2 separate regions of the Homo sapiens genome follow, and region 1 is linked to region 2. The links come from fine-mapping of genetic effects on gene expression. A gene starts in region 2. The other region holds a variant in brackets. All regions are shown on one strand. Distances are between the middles of the regions.

Region 1 (10,776 bases), 80 kb after region 2:
CTCACTGCAAACTCTGCCTCCTGGGTTGAAGCAATTCCCCTCCCTCAGCCTCCCGAGTAGCTGGGATTACAGATGTGTACCACCACACCTGGCGTTGCCATCTTTATGTACGTGAGTACCCATGTTTAGCTCCCACTTATAAATGAAAACATGTAGTATTTGGTTTGCTGTTCCTGCATTAGTTTGCTTAGAATAATGGCCTTCAACTGCATCCATGTTGCTGCAAAGGACATGATTTCATTCCTTTTTATGGCTGCAAAATTTTTTAATATTTTTGTATCAATGAGGTCTCACTGTGTTGCCCAGACTGGTCTCAAACTTTGGCCTCAAGCATTCCTTGCACCTCAGCCTCACAAAGTCCTGAGATTATACCTGGGAGCCACTGCACCCAGCCCTTTGATGCAGTTCTAACAATGACACCAGTCTTTTTTTTTTTTTTCTTTTTTGTTTCCCTTTTAGAGACAGGGTTTCACTCTGTTGCCTAGGCTGGAGTGCAGTGGAGTGATCATAGCTCACTACAGCCTTCAATTCCTGAGCTCAAGCGATCCTCCTGCATCAGCTTTCGGAGTACCTAGGAGTATAAACATGAGCCACTACACCCAACTAATGTTTTTGGTTGGTGTTTTTTTTTTTTCTTTAAGAGATAGGGTTGGCCGGGCCCGGTGGCTGGCTCACACCTGTAATCCCAGCACTTTGGGAGGCTGAGGCAGGTGGATCACAACGTCAAGGGATTGAGACCATCCTGGCCAACATGGTGAAACCCCATTTCTGTTAAAACTACAAAAATTAGCTGGGCATGGTGGCGAGCGCCTGTAATCCCAGCTACTCAGGAGGCTGAGGCAGGAGAATCACTTGACCCAGGAAGCGTAGGTTGTAGTGAGCTGAGATCGTGCCACTGTACTCCAGCCTGGGCGACAGAGCAAGACTCTGTCTCAAAAAAAAAAAAAAGATGTGGTCTTGCCATGTTGCCCAGGCTGGTCTCAAACTCCTAGGCTCAAGTGATCTTCCTGCCTTGGTTCCCAAAGTGCTGAGATTACAGCTGTGAGCCACTGCACCTGACCTTTTTTTTTTCCCCCCTCCTTTTTTTTTTGAGACAGGTTCTCACTCTGTCACCCAGGCTGAAGTGCAGTGGCATTTGAGGTCAGTCTCACCTTGACCTCCCCAGGCTCAAACAATCCTCCCGCCTCAGCCTCCTGAGCAGCTGGGACTACAAGCATGTGCCACCATCCCTGGCTGATTTTTTAAATTTGTTGTAGAGATGAGGTCTCACTATGTTGCCCAGGCTGGTCTTGAACTCTTGGGCCCAAGCGATCCTCCCGCCTCAGTGCTGAGATTGCAGTGGTAAGCCACCATGTCCAGCCAACTCTTTAATAATAGGCAGTTCTGACTGGTGTAAGTTCTGACTGGTATCTCACTGTGGTTTTAATTTGCATCTCTGATGATTAGTGATGTTGGGCATTTTTTCATGGGTTTTTTGTTTGTTTGTTTTGAGACAAAGTCTTGTTCTGTTGCCCAGGCTGGAGTGCAGTAGTGTGATCTCAGCTCACTGCAGCCTCCACCTCCCGGGTTCAAGCCATTGTCCAGCCTCTGCCTCCTAAGTAGCTGGAATTACAGGTGGCTGCCACCACACCCAGCTAATTTTTTTAGTTTTAGTAGAGACAGGGTTTCTCCATGTTGGCCAGGCTGGTCTCAAACTCCTGACCTCAAGTGATCCACCCACCTCGGCTTCCCAAAGTGCTGGGATTATAGGTGTGAGCCACCGCGCCCGGCCCTCATGGGTTGTTTTGTTTTGTTTTGAGACGGAATCTCACCCTGTCACCCAGGCTGCAGTGCAATCTCATGATCTCCACTTACTGCAACCTCCACGTCCTGGGTTCAAGTGATACTCCTGCCTCAGCCTCCCGAGTAGCTGGGACTACAGGCGTGCACCCACGCCTGGCTAATTTTTATATTTTTAGTAGAGATGGGGTTTCACCATGTTGGTCAGGCTGGTCTGGAACTCCTGACCTCAGGTGATCCACCTGCCTCGGTCTCCCAAAGTGCTGGGATTACAGACGTGTATACACAAGACACAAAGATCAGCTCAGGATGGGTCATAGGCCTAATGGTAAAAGGTAAAACTATGAAGCAGGCTGGGCATGATGTCTCATAGCTATAATCCTAACACTCTAGGAGGCCAAAGCTGGAGGACACTGTAGCCCAGAAGTGTGAGACCAGCCCACACAGCATAGTGAAGCCCCGTCTGTACAAAAAAACAATATTAAAAAAAAAAGAATTAGCTGGGCATGGTGAGTGGTCCACGCCTATAATCCCAGCTTCTGGGGAGGCTGAAATGGGAGGATCCCATGAGTCAGGAGGTCGAGGTCACAGTGAGCCATGATTATACCACTCCAGCCTGAATGACAGAGCAATACCCTGTCTTAAAAAAATAAAAACTGTAAAACAGTTATTAAGTTGAATCTCTTCAGGGCCTTGGGGTACGCAAAGATTCTTTTAGGCAGGATGCAGGACCTTGGGGTAGAACACAGAAAAACACTGGCATAAAAATAGGTAAATTGATAAATAAATTTATCTAAACAAAACACTTGTGCTCATCACAGGGCACTGTTAGAAACATGAAAAGGCACCAATGGGGGACGCAGTATTAGCAGTACATACACACAACATGACTTCTATCTGAAACTTAAAAATAACTCTGCCTGTTGTTAATCAAACAGAAAGCAGAAGAAGAAGCTGGGCGGAGGGTGAAACGTTTCACAAAAGGAAATGCAGGTCGGGCATGGTAGCTCACGCCTGTAATCCCAGCACTTTGGGAGGCCGAGGCGGTGGATCATTTGAGGTCAGGAGTTCGAGACAGCCAGGCCAACATGGTGAAAACCCATCTCTACTAAAAATAAAAAAAATTAGCCAGGTGTGGTGGCACGTGCCTGTAATCCTAGCTACTTGGGAGGCTGAGGTAGGAGAATCGCTTGAACCCAGGAGGCAGAGGTTGCAGCGAGCCGAGATTGCGCCATTGCACTCCAGCCTCGGCAACAACAAAAAAAAGGAGATGCAGGAACAGTCACTATCATTAGTCATCAGGGAAATGCAAATTAAAACATGAGAAGCCGTTACACATTCATCAGTGTGGCTGAAATGAAAAAAACGCGACAATGTCAAGTGTGAGTGAAGATGTGAAGCAGCTGGGACTCTCGTACCTTGCGAGTGGGAGGCAAAACCGTGCCACCCTCGCGAGAACTGTGTCTCAGGGTCTTAGAAAGTTCAGCACACAATTCATTACCCTGTGGGCCGGCAGATTCATTCCTAGGTAGGTTTTTTGTTGTTGTTGTTTGTTTGTTTGTTTGTTTTGAGATCTCGGCTTACTGCAACCTCGGTTCACTGCAACCTCCGCCTCCCAGGTTCACGCCATTCTCCTTCCTCAGCCTTCCTAGTAGCTGGGATTACAGGTGCGCACCACCACCCCCAGGTAATTTTTGCATTTTTAGTAGAGACGGGGTTTCACCATGTTAGCCAGGATGGTCTCCATCTCTTGAATTTGTGATCTGCCCACCTCAGCCTCCCAAAGTGCTGGGATTACAGGCATGAGCCACCGCGCCCGGCCTGTTGTTTGTTTTTGAGATGGAGTCTCGCTGTGTCGCCCAGGCTGGAGTGAAGAGGCAGGGTCTCGGCTCACTGCAGGCTTCCCCTCCCGGGTTCATGGGATTCTCCTTCCTCAGCCTCCTGAGTAGCCGGAACGGCAGGTGTCTACCACCACGCCTGGCTAATTATTTTTAGTAGAGACCGGGTTTCGCCATGTTGGCCAGGCTGGTCTCAAACTCCTGACTTCAAGTGATCCACCCGCCTCGGCCTCCCAAAGTGCTGGGATTACAGGCGTGACCCACTGCACCCAGCCTCACTCTTTGTTTTTATCCAAGAGAAATAAAAACACAGGTCCACAAAGAAATTGTAGAAGAATGATCCTGGCAACTTTGTTCATATTAGCTCAAAACTGGAGGCTGGGCATGGTGGCTCATACCTATAATCCCAGCACTTTGGGAGGCCAAGGTGGGTGGATCACCTGAGGTCAGGAGTTCGAGACCAGCCTGGCCAACATGGTGAAACCCTAGTTCTACCAAAAAATAGATAAAATTAGCCAGGCATTGTGGTTCATGCCTGTAATCCCAGCTACTTGGGAGGCTGAGGCAGGAAAACCGCTTGAACCCGGGAGGTGGAGGTTGCAGTGAGCCGAGATCGTGCCACTGCACTCCAGCCTGGGTGACAGAGCAAGACCCTACCTCAGAAAAAAAAAAAAAAAAAAAAAGCTGGAAACAACCCAAATGCACATCCCCCGGGGAGTTACGTTATTCACAAGGAGAAGCACCCTCTGCAACAAAAAGGAACCAGCAAGCACAGGCTCCCTGTTACTCCCTGTGGTGCAGGAGGCATTTTTCTGAGGGCATTAAGCACTTCAAAGTGTGCCTGTGGTGGGAGTGCTGTGTGGGCAGGACCAGCACTGGGTGGGATGTTGGGGGCGGGGAGCTCTCAGCTGCCTGCCCCTGCCCCCATGCCCACACTCTGGCAGTCTCTGGTGGGCCAGAAATGATGAGTGCTCATTTCTCTTCCACCCTGCAGGCACAGTTGGCGGGCAGCTCCCAGGTCTCCATGAGTACGGCGCCGTCGGGGGCTCCACACACACGGCCACTGCAGCCATGTGGGCCTGTCAGCACTGCACGTTCATGAACCAGCCAGGCACAGGCCACTGCGAGATGTGCAGCCTCCCCAGGACCTAGGGCGCCTGCCCTCTGCTGGCTAGGACCGGGCCCAGCCCAGCCCTTCCTGAAGCCAGAAGCGTTGCTGAGTGTGTTCCCTGTAACTGCCCCATAGTGGGCAGCCCTGGAGGAACAAGGGGCTGGCTGTCCTGGGCTCCCTGACCCACTGAAGCTTCTCAGCACGTTCCTCCCTGGAGAGCGGGCGCCACGGCTGGTATTCTGCAGGCTGAATGCAGTCTCCAGACTGGAAACGCAGAGCGGCTCCTCACGCCTAATCCTGTTGACAAGTCCCCCGCCGTGTTGGAAAGACCTCTCGCCTCTACGTGGCACCTGGAATTGGGGCGCACAGGGAGGGGCCGATGCTGCCACCACCCAGCCTTCTCTTTATTTTCAGTGCTTTTTGTTTGGCCTCCCTGCCCCCATGTTTTTCTGGCTGGGAGCTCTTGGTTACCCCCTTGTCTGACTGCTTGGTGGCAGGCACCCTGCCTGTGAGGGCCACTTTCCTCTTCTAGTAGCTGTTGTCTGGTGGGGACGCAGTGGCCCTGGACACGGCTCCCCTCTGCAGGTCTGCAGGTCGGTTTGCTGCCTGCCCTCCTCCTCTCACCCGATGTCCAGGTGGGATTTTAAAGTCTGCATTGGTTATAA[T/C]AACAGTTATCAGTAATTCCTGCCCAGAAGACTTTTATTTATTTTTTTTTAAGATAAAAACTGCACAAAAGGGGAGTGAGAGAGACTAGTTTCCACATCCTTCCCTCCTTTAGTGAAGCCCCCGAGGTTGTGTCCAGGGTGATGAGTGTGGACGGGGGCACCAGTCAGTTCTCCCTTGAAGTAAACCTCAGTGCCTGAGACTTTTCTACCAAGCCACACAGCTGCAGCAACTGCAGATACTGCGGGCTGAGCAGGAGCAGTGGTGGCGCCTGCCCTGAGGCTGCCCTGCGATGGCCTGGGTGGGAGAGCTGGGTCACCGGTGCCGATGCTCTGGCCCTCCCCAATACGCTGCTTCGTCCCACTGCACCGCCTGGCTGAGGGCGTTAGGGGCTGTGCCTCTTGTGAGGGCCATTTGGGACCTCCCTGGGGCACTGCACAATTGATAGTGTACCAATAGAGGGAGACTGGGCGATCTGGAACAGCACGTGGTGGGGTCCTGCTTGTGTGCTCTGCGTTCCTCTGTGGCGTGGCCAGGCCGGGGCATGGCTCTTACCCGGGGAGTGGTGGGCATCTCGATGCTTCTTTGCCTTAATGATGGCCACATCTGGGCTGCTCTGCACCCACGGGAGAGGCTGGCCCAGCTGCAGACTGCTTAGGGACTTCTGTGTCCATCCTGGGGGGTAAGCCCACGTGACCCACATTCTTGGCACTATGAACAGAGAACATTTGCCTGTTGGCTTCTGAAGTGGTCAGGGCCATGGCTGACACCTCCAGGTCCGCCTGGCATGGGACACCAAGTGGAAGGCCCAAGCAGCTCATCTGCTCTTGGGACCAGGGGCCAGTTGGGTTGGGTCTGGTCACGGCAGAGCTATTGTGGAGGGTCAGGAAGGGTGGAGAGGAGCTGGGTTGAAGCGGACTGCTGCGGATGCAACTCCCAGCTTGCCCACCGCGGGCTGTCTGCTCTCCCTCCTAGCAGCTGTCACACTGAAGTTTTGTCCTCTGCTGTCTCCTCTGGTCCTGAGATGAGCTGTGAGCCTAGGTGGCCAAGGCTTCCTGCATTGCTTCCCTGTGAGTCCAAGGCCTTCCCCCACCACTGGGCAGAGGCTGGACAGCACGGACTTCTAGAGAGAGCCGCGTTGCCAGTTCCTCTCCCACTCGCTCGTCCTTATCCACCACGCTATTATAGTTTCCGTTGTCCTCCACCAGCATTTCCCTTACTCTGAAGTTCCGGCATTCACATCATTCATGTTTTCTTTTGTCTTTTAGCTAAAGGAAAAGCATTGGCGATTTGTCTGATTCTGGTTTTGAGTTACTCTTTGTTCAGTAATGCACTTTATTTTATTGTCCAAAGAGAGTCAGAGCTAAGCATACAGGCTTGGGGGTGAGCCCTGCTGTGAGAGTTCAGGCCCTGGGAGGCTCAGCCACCTCCTCTTGTGGGAAGGAGGTCTCAGCCCCACCTCGCATCTTCACCTGCCCTTGGTGTGGACACACCCTCTCATGCTACCAGCACCATAATCCAGTGGGGGTGACTGGGTGCACACCTGCCCAGGTGAACACAGCGGCTGCCAGTCTCCTGGTCCCGAGAGGAGGTGGGGCCTGGCCCTGGCTCCCTCCAACCAGCTGCTCCTGGGACACAGGTGCTCCTGCTTCGGCTCTGTTTCGGCTCACAGGTGTGCATCACTGGGCTTGGATTTGCATTACATTGACCCCAGCCCTGCAGTGGAACCTAATAAAAGCGCCTGAAGCAACTGCCTGGTCCTGGTGTGTCCTTCCTGCGCACTCAACTGTTGTCTGGCATCTGCTCAGTGTGGGGGGATTTGATAACTTGTCTCCAAGATATCACTGTTTTACGTGTATGTGCATGGTCCATTTAAAGGTGGGGATCCCACTTCCCCAGCCGATCCCTCCCAACCTTGGCTCCTCGATAAGTTTCTTAAAGTGCTAACATCTGGGGGAGGAGGAGAGTGCGTCAGTGTTTGACGGCCCCGCCGCCCTTGGGTGCCTCTTCTGCCTCTGCCGCACCTGTCAGCCCTGCGACTGCCCCACAGTCACTGCTTTGTGGACAGGTACATGTGGTCAAACAGCAGGTGAAGGACAAAGCCCAGGAAGGCCAGACTGCACAGGTGCAGCAAGGAGTGAGGCCTGGGGGTGACACACTGCCTGTGTTCCTGCTTGAGCTGTCTTTCCCTGTGACAACAGAAAGCGTCTAGAACAAGTGCTCTCTGAGCCTCAGATAGGAGCCTGGCAGTCACTGTTCAGCACCACTTTGTCCTTTGGTCAGTGACTCATAGCTGACTTGAGCAGTTACTAAAAAAAACTCCAACTAATTTCTGAAGGAGGGCCCTGGGGTGAAGCAGGCCACAGGACAGTGACCAAGGTGTCCTGGCTTCTGGACTCCAGGAGCGAGAGGGTGAGTCCCCCAGCACCCGGACTCCAATCCTGCACCTTCAACACAGTGCAGTTCACTCGATTTACCCACAGCTCCTGGGATCGCTTGAGCCCAGGAGGTTGAGGCTGCAGCCAGCTGTGATCGCAAGTCCAGCCTGGGCCACGGGGTGAGACCCTGTCTGAAAAAAAATTTAAAAAGCTGAGGTGAGGAGGCTCGGGGAGGTTGTATCAGAGAAAGCAGCAGCCTGGGCCATGCAGTGAGCCAGTACCTGATCATGGCCGTCTTATGTGAGAGCCAGTGAAGATCCTTGGCATCCTCTTTGGTTCGATGTAAAGATAAAAGCCGGGCGCAGTGGCTCACACCTGTAATCCCAGCACTCTGGGAGGCCGAGGCAGGTGGATCACCTGAGGTCAGAAGTTCTGGCCAACCCGGTGAAACCCTGTCTCTACTAAAAATACAAAAACTAGATGGGCCTGGTGGTGCACACTTGTAATCTCAGCTACTTGGGAGGCCCAGGCTGGAGGATCACTTGAACCCCGGGGGCAGAGGTTGCAGTGAGCTGAGACTGTGCCACTGCACACTCCAGCCTGGGCAACAGAGCAAGACTGTCTCAAACAAAAAAAACAAAAAAACTGGGTGTGGCAGCTCACACCTACAATCCCACCACTTTGGGGAGGCCAAGGCTGGTGGATCACTTGAGGTCAGGAATTCAAGACTAGCCTGGTCAACATGGTGAAACCCAATCTCCACTAAAAAATAGAAAAAATTAGCCAGTGTAGTGATGTGTGTGCGCCTGTAATCCCAGCTACTTGGGAGGCCAAGGTAGGAGAACTGCTTGAACCTAGGAGGCAGAGGTTGCAGTGAGCCGAGTTTATGCCACTGCACTCCAACCTGAACAGTGTAAGACTCTGTCTCAAAAAATAGGCCAGGCGTGGTGGCTCATGCCTGTAATCCCAGCACTTTGGAAGGCCGAGGCAGGCGGATCAAGAGGGCAGGAGATGGAGACCATCCTGGCTAACACAATGAAACCCCGTCTCTACTAAAAATACAAAAAAATTAACCGTGCATGGTGGCAGGTGCCTGTAATACCAGCTACTCGGGAGGCTGAGGCAGGAGAATGGCGTGAACCTGGGAGGCAGAGCTTGCAGTGAGCCGAGATGGCACCACTGCACTCCATCCAGCCTGGGCGACAGAGTGAGACTCCATCTCAAAAAAAAAAAAAGACTGTCTCAAAAAATTAAAAAAAAATTTTTTTTAATCTGTCATCCAGGCTGGAGTGCAGTGGCGTGATCTCGGCTCACTGCAAGCTCGCCTCCCGGGTTCACACCATCCTCCTGCCTCAGCCTCCCGAGTAGCTGGGACTACAGGCGCCGCCACTATGCCCAGCTAATTTTTTTGTATTTTTAGTAGAGACGGGGTTTCACTGTGTTAGCTAGGATGGTCTCGATCTCCTGACCTTGTGATCCTGCCCGCCTCGGCCTCCCAAAGTGCTGGGATTACAGGCATGAGCCACCGTGCCTGGCCAAAATTAAAAAATTTAAAACAGTTCTGGATGCCACTCCCCCATTAAATCAAGCAAATTGTACTGCTTAGAAATAGAACTCAGGCCCGGGGTTCGAGACCAACGTGGCCAACATGGCGAAACCCTGTCTCTATTAAAAAAGACAAAAAATTAGCCTGGCGTGGTAGTGTGCACCTATAGTCCAGCTTTTCGGGAGGCTGAGGCAGGAGGTTGGCTTGAGCCTGGGGTGTTGAGGCTGCAGTGAGCCGAGACTGTGCCACTACACTCTAGCCTGGGAGACACAGTGAGAACCTGTGTGTGTCAAAAAAAAAAAAAGGGAGAAGTCGGGTTCCTGGGTCCCTGCCTCACCTTCCTGCTGTGTTCTCCTTATTGGGCTGTGCTGCTCTGAGGAGAGGTCCCTCAAGGCCCAGCCCTCCTCGCCCTCAACACAGCCTGAAGCTTCATGGTTTTTCTCCCCTCAGTCTGACCTAAATTGACTCCTTCATATACTTCGTGCTTAGGGAGATGATAACACCTCCAAGTTGGGCATAGAAACGCAGTGTCCAGCGGTCTGCGCTGCTGTCTCGAAGGCTTCCGCTAGGAGTGTGTGCATCTTCCACACCCACGGACAGAGAGGCTGCCTCAGCCCTCATCACTCTTCGCCAAGTACAGGTGGGGCACGGCACAGCCCAGCAGCTGATGGAGAGCCGGCCTTCAGCCCTTCGCTTGTGTCTAACTCACCCCCTTTCCCCTGGGATCCATGCTTAAGGTCCCCCACATGACTACTGATCATAAATCTTGTTGCAGATAGGAGCTGGGCTTGGCGTGGGGCCAAAAGCCTGCCAGCCCCCGGAGCAGAGTGGGGTGGGCAGCGGAGTAAACCGCGGGGTGAGGCTGCTGGTTTGGCGGGCCTTCTCCCACGTCCGTTTCCTCCTCCACGTGATCGTGATCATTTCCTCTAGGACAGTCTTGGCATGTTACCATCCGTATGGAAGAGATGGCCTGGGAGGACTGGATGGGGTTGGTGTGTGTGAGCGAGTGACTCACAAGGCTTCAGAGGGTTAAAACTAGCAGTCAGAAGACCTGCGGATTCCTGTGGGGAAATTCGGTCAGAAGACCAGCGGAGGATCCCTGTGGGGAAATTCACAACGATGCGGCATCTGACTTCCTGACTCTGAAGGCCAAATGAGATGCACCTGGCCCTCCTCTCCCCACTCCCCAGCATCAAAGACAGCATTTCCAGCCCAAACACCTTCAGAGCAGCCCTGGCGAGAAGAGAGGAGCAAGGAACTGACTCCAGGTGCCGCACTTGAGTCTGTCTAACCCAACATTCAGAATCAGACATCCCCGTTGCCTTGGGGTCAGTCCCCACCCCAACCTCAAAGGGGGGCGGTCAGGATGTCTGCAAGTGGTGCTTTGTGCTCCAGCAGGTGCACCCGGACTCCACGATGTCTGCCTAACTTCCAAGCCCAGTTTTGCAGCCCTGCCCCTAG
Region 2 (10,794 bases):
CCGGGTTCACGCCATTCTCCTGCCTCAGCCTCCCAAGTAGCTGGGACTACAGGCGCCCGCCACTACGCCCGGCTAATTTTTTGTATTTTTAGTAGAGACAGGGTTTCACCGTTTTAGCCGGGATGGTCTCGATCTCCTAACCTCGTGATCCGCCCGCCTCGGCCTCCCAAAGTGCTGGGATTACAGGCGTGAGCCACCGCGCCCGGCCGTCCCGGTAATTTTTTAAAATTATTTTTTGTAGGCCGGGCACGGTGGCTCATGCCTGTAATCCCAGCACTTTGGGAGGCCGAGGCGGGTGGATCACGAGGTCAGGAGATCGAGACCATCCTAGCCAACATGGTAAAACCCTGTCTCGACTAAAAAAAATTAGCTGGGTGTGGTGGCATGTGCCTGTAATCCCAGCTACTCAGCAGGCTGAGGCATGTGAATTGCTTGAACCGAGGAGGCGGAGGTTGCAGTGAGCCGAGGTTGTGCCACTGCACTCCAGCCTGGTGACAGAGCGAGACTCTATCTAAATATATATATATATATATATATATATAATATTTTGTAGAGACAGGGTCTCGCTACATTGCCCAGGCTGGTCTTGAACTCCTGGGCTCACGCAATCTTCCCTCCTCAGCCTCCCAAAGTGCTGGGATTACAGGAGTGAGCCACTGTGCCCGGCCCCAGAGGAGGGTTATTTATCACCCCCAAGACCTCAACAAGTCACTAGAAGCAAAAGGACAGGCTGTCAGTGCCTGGTTGGCCAGACTGGGGCCACTGGGGGCCAGAGGCCGTTGGAGGCTGGCTGCAAGGGACATTTGCCTTCACCCCCTCCTGCACCCTGAGCCAAAGATTGCCCCCAAGGCCCTCAGGGAGATCTGGCAGATCCCTTGACCAGAGGCCAGCATGGGGCTGAGAGAACTGCGCAGTGGGGAAGGGGGAGGGGGCTGCCTAGAACCACCCCCCTCAACCCAATCTCAGCATTGAGGTGTGGGGTGGCACCAGGGGCAGGGGTGGGTGTGAACCCAGCCCAGGGACTTCCCTTAGGACTTCAGGGCTGGGGACATCTCCAACCTCAGGGCAAGGCCACTTGGCATGGCTCACCTGGGACAGTAAGGGGCTCCTCTCCCCCTCCTCCATCCTTGACGCTGGAACAGAAAGCCCCCAGCACAGGCGCCGGGAGAGGTTCGCTGGCTCCTCTGTGGCTGGGCTGCTGGGCTGGTCCTGACTGCGGCCCTGGGCTAGTCTGTGAACAGTGCAGCCCTGGGCATGGGAATGGGGGAGGTGCGAGCCCTACCCAGATGCCGGAGTCACAGTTGAGTCATGTGAAGAATCACATTTTAGAGCTTAAGGAGGCCTCTGCTTGTGGAGATATATTTCTCCCCAGCCCTGGCTCTGTGGGTCCCCTAAGCTCAGCGCAGGTGTGACTCAGGCAGGCATGTTTGGGTGCCAGCCTTGTGGCTCTCACTGCAGCCCCCCATGCGGACTTCAGCTCTGCAGGGTCAGCAGCCGCTCCATCAGCTCCCAACCAGGGAATCAGACCCTGGTAAATTGGTTCACAACCCCAATCCCAAGAGACCCATGGGCAGCCCCAGCGCCAATCTATCCCCCGGCTTGTTCACTGCACGAATGAAACAGCGTCCCCCCACCAGATCACCTCCTTGTTTTTGTTTTTGAGACTGAGTTTCGCTCTTGTTGCCCAGGCTGGAGTGCAATGGCGCAATCTCGGCTCACTGCAACCTCGCCTCCCGGGACTACAGATGTACGCCACCTTGCCTCACTCATTTTTGAATTTTTTTTGTAGAGACAGGGTTCTGCTGTGCTGCCCAGGCTGGTCTTGAACCCCTGGACTCAAGTGATTCTCCTGCCTTGGCCTTCCAAAGTGCTGGGATTACAGGCTGGAGCCACTGTGCCCGGACTCAGCCACCAACACTCAGCAGTCCAAAGAGGTGGTCTGGGTGGTGCAGCACAGCAGGCAATGTACTGATGGAGCAGGCAGAGGGTTTCAGGCGCGCGTGAGACGCCTGGGTGGGAGCACACCGGGCAAGTTTTAGGAGGAAAGGTCACCTGGCTGTGTGGGGCAAGCGGAGATGGGGGTGGGAGGGAGGTCCATGAGGTGACAGGGCTGGATCAGGTGAGGCCTTGAAGGCCACTCTGAGTCTTCAGATCTTCCTCGGAGAAGTGGGATATGCTGCAGGTGGGAAGTCGGGGCGAGGACCAGAGCTGCAGGCTGAGCTTCTGGGCTCCAGCTTCCCTTCACCTCCCCAAAGGTGACAAACCCAACCTCATGGGCCCTGCAGCAGCTCCACAGCCAGGGTCACGGTCACAGGGACTGTCCACGGCCTCCAACTCAGTCTGTTCTAAGGATGGGTAACCTTTTTTTTTTTGAGACAAGAGTCTCGCTCTGTTGCTGAGGCTGGAATGCAGTGGCACGATTTTGACTCACCGCAACCTCTGCCTCCTGGGTTCAAGCGATGCTCCTGCCTTGGCCTCCTGAGTAACTAGGATTGCAGGCGCCACACCTGACTGATTTTGTATTTTTAGTAGAGATGGGGTTTCACCATGTTGGCCAGTCTGGTCTCGACCTCCTGACCTCAAGTGATCTGCCCGCCTCCTCCTCCCAAAGTGCTGGGATTACAGGCGTGAGCCACCACGCCCGGCCAAAGTCTGGGTAATCTTTTAATGAAACGATCATCATCTACCACTGTTATGGCTGAATTGTGCCCCTTACATTCTTATGATAAAGTTCTAGCCCCCCGGACCTCAGAATGGGACTTGGAGACAGGGCCTTTAAAGGCCATTAGGGGCTGGGCGCGGTAGCTCACACCTGTAATTCCAGCACTTAGGGAGGCCGAGGCAGGTGGATCATGAGGTCAGGAGATTGAGACCAGCCTGGCCAACATGGTGTGACCCTGTCTCTACTAAAAGTACAAAAAATTAGCTGGGCATCGTGGCGCATGCCTGTAATCCCAGCTACATGGGAGGCTGAGGCAGGGGAATTGCTGGGACCCAGGAGGCAGAGGTTGCAGTGAGCCGAGATGGTGCCGCTGCACTCCAGCCTGGTGACAGAGCAAGACTCCATCCCTAAATAAATAAATAAGTGCCATTAGCGTGGGCCCTAATCCAACATCCTTACAAGAAAATTGGGACACACGGTGGGACACATGGAGAGACACGAGGAATGTGTGCACAGAAGAAAAAACATGTGAGGTCTCGGGGAGAAGGTGCCATCTTCGAGCTAAGGAGAGAGGTATAAGAAGAAACCTGGCTGGGTACAGCGGCTTATGCCTGTAATCTAAGCACTTTGGGAGGCTGAGGTGGGTGGATTGATTGAACCTAGTAGTAGTTAGAGACCAGCCTGGGCAACATAGCAAGATCCCATCTCTACTAAAAATACAAAAAGTTAGCCAGGTGTGATTGTGAGCACTTGTGGTCCCAGCTACTGAGGAGGCTGAGGTGGGAGTATCACCTGAGCCTGGGAAGTCGAGGCTACAGTGAGCCACGATTGTGCCACTGCACTCCAGCCTCGGCGATGGGAGTGAGACCCCAGTCTTTTCTTTTTTTTTTTTTTTTGAGACGGAGTCTTGCTCTGTCGCCCAGGCTGGAGCGCAGTGGCGTGATCTCGGCTCACTGCAAGCTCTGCCTCCCGGGTTCACGCCATTCTCCTGCCTCAGCCTCCCGAGTAGCTGGGACTACAGGCACCCGCCACCACGCCCGGCTAATTTTTTTTTTATTTTTAATAGAGACAGGGTTTCACCATATTAGCCAGGATGGTCTCGATCTCCTGACTTCGTGATCCACCTGCCTCGGCCTCTCAAAGTGCTGGGATGACAGGCGTGAGCCACCGCGCTGGGATGACAGGCATGAGCCACCGTGCTGGGATGACAGGCGTGAGCCACCGCGCTGGGATGACAGGCGTGAGCCACCGCGCCCGGCCAAGACCCCAGCCTTAAAAGAAAAAAAAAAGAAGAAAACAAAGGAGAAACCACGTCTACTGACACCTTGATCTGGGATTCTAGCTTCCAGGACTGTTAGGAAGTAATTCCAGGCCGGGCATGGTGGCTCATGCCTATAATCCCAGCACTTTGGGAGGCTGAGGCGGGTGGATCACGAGGTCAGGAGATCGAGACCAGCCTTACCAACATGGTGAAACCCTGTCTCTACTAAAGATATAAAAATTAGCCGGGCGTGGTAGCGCACGCTTGTAATCTCAGCTACTCAGGAGGCTGAGGCAGGAGAATCGCTTGAACCCACGAGGCGGAGGTTGCAGTGAGCTGGGATCGCGCCATTGCACTCCAACCTGGGCGACAGAGGGAGATCCGACTCAAAAAAAAAAAAAAAAAAAAAGAAAAGTAATTCCAAACCACCACCCAGTCTGTGAGAGATTTTGTTATGTTATATTTTCTTATAACTGAGATAATTATTACAGTTAAAGAGATCGGACTTAACTGAACCCATCTTGCTTCTAACCTCCAAGCTGTCCTTGTTCATTCCTGGGTGTAGGCTGAAATAACTTCGGGAGGCGCTTAGTTTATAGTTTAGCTTTGAAACAAAGATGGTAACAGCCCTTTGCAAAACAAACTCCCTTCCTACCTGGGGACAAGACTGCCTTTTCAGGACTAACAAATTAGCCATAAGATTAGAAATTATGGTTTAGGAGTCATGTAGCTGGAGGCTACAAGATTCTAAACCTCCCAAATTGCTTCTCAGGATAACATCACTATTAAAAAACAGATCAGCGCTTGAGATATTTTGCAGACTCTGCACTCCATGGATCAGCTGGCACCACCCAGATTGATAAACTGGCTCATATCTTGTGGCCCCCACCCAGGAACCGACTCAGCACAAGAGGACAGTTTTGACTCCCTATCATTTCACCTCTGACCCAACCAATCAACACTCCCTACTTTCTGACCCCATACCCACCAAATTATCCTTAAAACCGCGGATCCCCAGCCGGGCACGGTGGCTCACGTCTATAGTCCCAGCACTTTGGGGAGGCCCAGGTGGGCGGATCACCTGAGGTCAGGAGTTCAAGACCAGCCTGACCAACATGGAGAAACTCCGTCTCTACGAAAAATACAAAATTAGCCAGGCATGGTAGTGTGCGCCTGTAGTCCCAGCTACCCGGGAGGCTGAGGCAGGAGAATCACTGGAACCCAGGAGGTGAAGGTTGCAGTGAGCCGAGATCGCGCCACTGCACTCCAGTGTGGGTGACAGAGTGAGATTCGGACTCAAAAACAAAAAAAAACAAAAAACAAAAAACTCTGATCCCTGAATTCTCAAGGACACTAATTTTTTTTGAGTAGTAATAAAACCTCAGTAACCTGTACAAGCTGGCTCTGTGTGAATTAAACTCTTTATTGCAATTCCCCTGTCTTGATAAAGTCTAGGCAGTGGGCAGGGACAATATGTTGGGTAGTTACAGTGGCACCCTGAGCAAACTAATACAATTACTAACATAATTTAATCAATTAATGTAATTTAACATAGTTTAAAAAAACTGTCACAGTAATTGTGATGTTGTGAAATATGTATACATTTAGTCTTCCGGTTTCCTGGTATCCAACTCCAAAAATCCTTAGAATCTGTGAAGTGACGTCTTTTTTTTTTTTTTTTGAGATGAAGTCTCACTCTGTCGCCCAGACTGGAGTGCAGTGGCACCAACTCAGTTCATTCTAACCTCCGCCTCTTCGCTTCAAGAGATTCTCCGGCCTCAGACTCCCGAGTAGCTGGGATTACAGGTGCCCGCCACCACGCCCAGTTAATTTTTGTATTTTTAGTAGAGACGGGGTTTCACCACGTTGGTCAGGCTGGTCTTGAACTCCTGACCTCAGGTGATCCACCTGCCTCGGCCTCCCAAAGTGCTGGGATTACAGGCGTGAGCCACCGCGTATGGCCTAATTTTGTATTTTGAGTAGAGACGGGGTTTCACCATTTTGGCCAGGCTGGTCTCGAACTTTTGACCTCAGGTGATCCGTCCACCTTGGCTTCCCAAAATGCTGGGATTACAGGTATGAGCCACCGCGCCCGGCCTGAAATGCAGTTTAAACTCGTTTGTTTTTCTTATGTTAAATTTAAAAAATACTTAAAAAAAAAAACATGAAGGTGTGATCCTGCCTTCCTGAAATTGTTTCTCTACTTACCTGTGCATGGAGAGAAGTTTGGAATGCTGTTTCCCCAATTATAATACGCTATAATACGCAGCAGTAGTTATTTTTGGGTGAGACTTCGGATGCTCGTCTTTGCTTCCTTTTTGGACTTTCCTGTGCCGCTTGGGTTTCCGAGGACGAGCAGAAGTAATCTCAGACGCAACTTTCCAAAATCCCCTCCTCCAGTTGCAGGGATGGCGGGGGCGGGTCAGCGGCGCCGCCCTGCGCATGCGTCGAGCCGTTGGTGGGGCCGGAACCTGGTTTCCCGGCCTCGCGCCCGAGGGGAGCGTATTGAGCGAGGCACCGGGACGTCGGCGGCTGGCGGAGCCGGGCGGGCGAAGCTGGAGCGGCGGTGGCGGCGGCGTAGGGAGGCCGGGGCCGGGGCTGAGGCCGCGGCCGGGTCTGCGAGGCCCTTGGGGCGGCAGGCGGCGGCGGCCCGGGGCTCGAGCCCGGAGGCAGGAGCAGCCGCCATGGCCGAGAGCATCGTGAGTGCGGCGGCCGGGCGGGAGCGGGGACGCCGGGATGAGGCAGCAGATTTGCCGGCCTCGGCCTGTGGGGGAGGCGGGCCTGCCGGCGCCGCGACTCGGCCCCTTTCTCTTCTCTCGCCAGGGCTTTCTCTGTAGTGGCTGGGCCCCTCTCGGGGACTTTCACCCCCCTCGGCTGCTTCCCGTCCGTGTCCCTCCCCAGGGGACTTACGACCCCGGTTCCCCGCCCTGGGCAGGGAAAGGCCGAGCCTTTCTAAGCAGGGAGAATGGACTGTGGCGAAGAGAAACCGCCCTCCTTCCCCACCCGTTTCCCGGCTCCAGGAGACTTCCTGGTCTAATTCCAGGGACTCCCAGCCAGTCCTGCCCCTCTCAGAGCCAGGGACACCTCTTATCCTAATCTCCCTCTGATTCTCTCCTCCTGCTCTCCCGCTTCCCAGCAAGTGCCTTGTCATGAGTCACTAAGGAGAGCAGCTCTGCAGACGGGGACGTTACAGAGCTCCCTCCCCACCAGAAGACCTGGGAAAATGAAAACACAGTAACTTGCCGGCTTTGCTCCTTACTTGGAAGGACAACTTGACAATTCCTCTTTAAAAGGAATGTTGTAAATGATGTTGATTTCACTTTTTACCTGAAATTGAAATTGTCGGCCCGGCGCAGTGGCTCACGCCTGTGATGTCAGCACTTTGGGAGGCCGAGGCGGGTGGATCACCTGGGGTCAGGAGTTCGAGACCATCCTGGCCAACATGGCAAAATCTTGTCTCTACTAAAAATACAAAAAATTAGCCGGGCGTCATGGCGCACTGTAATCCCAGATACTTGGGAGGCTGAGGCAGGAGAATTGCTTGAACGCGGGAGGTGGAGGTTACAGTGAGCTGAGATCCCTCCATGGCACTCCAGCCTGGGCTATAGAGCGAGACTGCGTCTCAAAAAAAAAAAAAAAATTGTCACACACTCCTCCTTAACGTAAAAAATATCAGTGACAAATCAGAAAACCAGTCCCTCGTTAAGTTGTGAGAAGTTTCTTCCCAAAAGTAAATGTGATGGGAAAAAAACTAACTGACCATTGGACAGGAGCATTTTGGTTAATATTAAGGAAGATTTGGGATTTCTGGGGGAAGCTTAGCAGTATTGGGTGAAGAGTAATGTTCATACTGTAGCATTGTGACAGTCTCTGCAGTTTTGCCAGGTGTTGTCTAGAATAGGTCTCCAGGCCCGGCGCGGTGACTCACACCTGTAATCCCAGCACTTTGGGAAGCCCAGGTGGGTGGATCACCTGAGGTCAGGAGTTCAAGACCAGCCTGGACAACATAGTGAGCCTAGGTGGCGTCACTGGACTCCACCCTGGGCGACAGAATGAGACTGTCTCACACACACAAACAAATGGGTCTCCAGGAGAACCTAGCACTTATTTGCAAGGCTGTTCTCTGGTGGTTCCATCATCTCTCCAGTCAGGGGCCCTCTTGGTGCCTCCATGTTTCCCAACCTGGAGATGAGTGGAATGAATATATGGCCCAGGAGAAACTTAGGAAACGTCGACTCCTTTTTTTTTTTTTTTTTTAACCTTATTTTATTTTTTTGAGATGGAGTCTCACTCTGTCGCCCAGGCTGGAGTTCAGTGGTGCGATCTCTGCTTACTGCAACCTCCGCCTCTCGGGTTCAAGAAATTCTCCTGCCTCAGCCGAGTAGCTGGGGTTGCAGGTGCTCGCCAACACGCATGGCTGATGTCTTTTTTATTTTTAGTGGTGATGGGGTTTCACCGTGTTGGCCAGGTTGATCTCGAACTTCTGACCTCGTGATCCGCCCGCCTTGGCATACCAAAATGCTGGGATTACAGGCATAAGCCACCGCGCCTGGCCTTTAAATCTTTTTAATTAAAAACATTTTTTTATAGAGATGAGGTCTCTACTATGTTGTACAGGCTGGTCTCTGAGCTCGAGGGATCCTCCTACCTTGGGGTCCCAAAATTGCTAGGATTACAGTCCTGAGCTACCATGCCCGGCCAAGAAACCTTTGACTCCTTTGAAAAATAAAATGTGGCCATGCAGTGGCTCACGCCTGTAATCCCAGCACTTTGGGAGGCCGAGGTGGGCGGATCACGAGGTCAGGAGTTCAAGACTGGCCTGACCAACATGGTGAAACCCTGTCTCTACTAAAAATAAAAAATTAGCCGGGTGTGGTGGCATGCACCTGTTATCCCAGCTACTCTGGAGGTTGAGGGAGGGGAATCGCTCAAACCCGGGAGGTGGAGGTTGCAGTGAGCCCAGATTGCGCCACTGCACTCCAGCCTGGGCGACAGAGCAAGACTGTCTCAAAAAAAAAAAAAAAAGTGTTAATCATTGGTGACTTTGCCTAGAAATAGGTTAGGAATTAGCACTGAAACCTTCTTTCAAACTACCTTTGTACTTTTAACTGAGTTAAAATAACCATTGACAAGTGAAAAGTGTTTCAGACAAGGCCATTTTTTTTTTCCCACTAGTGTATAAGGCTAGGCTCTCATTGACAGCATTGGATCTCGTTGAATGTCTCAGATTGTGAGGAATTAAAACACTCTTCTTTTGAAATTGATTTAAAAAGTTATTTTGAATTTAAGAAAGAGATCTTTTGAAAAGTTTCTGGGCTGGGCATGGTGGCTCACACCTGTAATCCCAGCACTTTGAGAGGCCGAGGCAGGTGAATAATGAGGTCAGGAGTTGAGACCAGCCTGGCCGACATGGTGAAACCACGTCTTTACTAAAAATACAAAAATTAGGGCGTGGTGGCTCACGTTTGTAATCCTAGCACTTTGGAAGGCCGAGGCAGGTGGATTGCCTGAGCTCAGGAGTTTGAGACCAGCCTGGGCAACACGGTGAAACCCCACGTCTACTAAAAAAAAAAAATACAAAAAATTAACCGGGCGTGGTGGCGTGCACCTGTAGTCCCAGCCACTCAGGAGGCTGAGGCAGAAAAGTTAGAACCCGGGAGGCGGAGATTGCAGTGAGCCGAGATCGCACCACTGCACTCCAGCCTGGGTGACAGAGTGAGACTCTTAAAAAAAAAAAAAAAATTAGCTGGGCGCGGTGGCGGGCGCCTATAATCCCAGCTACTTGGGAGGCTTGAGGCAAGAGAATTGCTTGAACTCGGCAGGCAAAGGTTGCAGTGAACCGAGGTCGCGCCATCGCACTCCCACTCTGGGTGACAGAGCAAGACTCTGTCTTGGGGGGAGAAAAGAGTTTCTGTGGATTTAACTGTATCTCACCAGTTCTTCAACTTCCCCAAGAAGCGTTCTAGTCTTATTTTCTTATAAATAGGGAAACTTAAGTTACCAAGAGGCTGTGTGTTCATGTTGTCAGGTCTGTCTCTTCCTGTGTATTTCATTTTGTAGTCTGTGTCAGAGGCTAGGCCAGAACTTTCCATCGTACAAATTATGTTTGTCTCTTGTTAAATACTGGAGTTGGCCTTGGAAACCTGGACTCCCATCTTCTGTGGTAGAGGATCAAGTAGGATGACTTCTTCACCTTAGAATTCTGCAGCCTGAACCATTTAGCTCTGTAAAGAATGGCGGTAACATGCTCTTGTTCCAGAGTCATCGTTTGAAGGAACATTCACATGTTCCCCTTCATTAGAACAGAGCTTTCCTTTTTAAGATAGCTAAGTGTTGGCAGACAGATTTTAGAAACAAATAAGTGGAAGTATTTACCTAATGCTATATATTGTGAAAACGTTTTTCTGGGGTATTGAATCTAGAATGAAGTATACTAGACGTTAGAAGTATAAAGAATTGTATTTCTTTTCTTTTTTTTTTTTTTTTTGAGACGGAGTCTTGCTCTGTCACCCAGGCTGGAGTGCAGTGGCGCGATCTGCTCACCACAAGCTCTGCCTCCTGGGTTCACGCCATTCTCCTACCTCAGCCTCCCAAGTAGCTGGGACTACAGGCGCCCTCCACCACGCCTGGCTAATGTTTTGTATTTTTAGTAGAGATGGGGTTTCACCGTGTTAGCCAGGATGGTCTCAATCTCCTGACTTAAAAGTTGAGAACATATTGGGTGGAGCCTTTTCTGCCAAGTGAAAGTTATGGGAAAATGCAGGACAGGGTTATCCTATTTTAGGAAAATCTAGATTAGGCTTAGTTACTTTACTAAAAGCGGACAAATCCCAGTAGACTGAGCCTTTATGGTGTTTTGTCCTGTATCAGT

Evidence for each region.
Region 1: its variant is fine-mapped to the expression of NPLOC4 in whole blood (INTERVAL, PIP above 0.99). The same link has a PIP of 0.9 or more in fibroblasts.

Annotation. Positions count from the first base shown.
Region 1 is chr17:81,553,252-81,564,027 of GRCh38, reverse strand. It overlaps NPLOC4 (NPL4 homolog, ubiquitin recognition factor), which reads left to right. Exons shown (of 17, transcript NM_017921.4): 17 at 4,612-7,141. The coding sequence ends at 4,769. LOC124904085 (a long non-coding RNA gene) reads right to left here. Exons shown (of 2, transcript XR_007065947.1): 2 at 6,709-10,776. Among named protein-coding and RNA genes, the nearest start is that of FAAP100, 6.3 kb to the right of the region's middle. RefSeq lists enhancers at 2,940-3,039, 4,316-4,815, 4,816-5,317, 10,044-10,619 and silencers at 10,669-10,738, 10,749-10,776. The variant T/C (reference allele first, on the strand shown) is at 5,394.
Region 2 is chr17:81,632,744-81,643,537 of GRCh38, reverse strand. It overlaps NPLOC4 (NPL4 homolog, ubiquitin recognition factor), which reads left to right and starts at 6,426. Exons shown (of 17, transcript NM_017921.4): 1 at 6,426-6,622. The coding sequence starts at 6,608. It overlaps TSPAN10 (tetraspanin 10), which reads right to left and starts at 6,342. Exons shown (of 4, transcript NM_001290212.2): 1 at 6,132-6,342; 2 at 1,090-1,231. The coding sequence starts at 1,125. RefSeq lists a silencer at 6,487-6,696.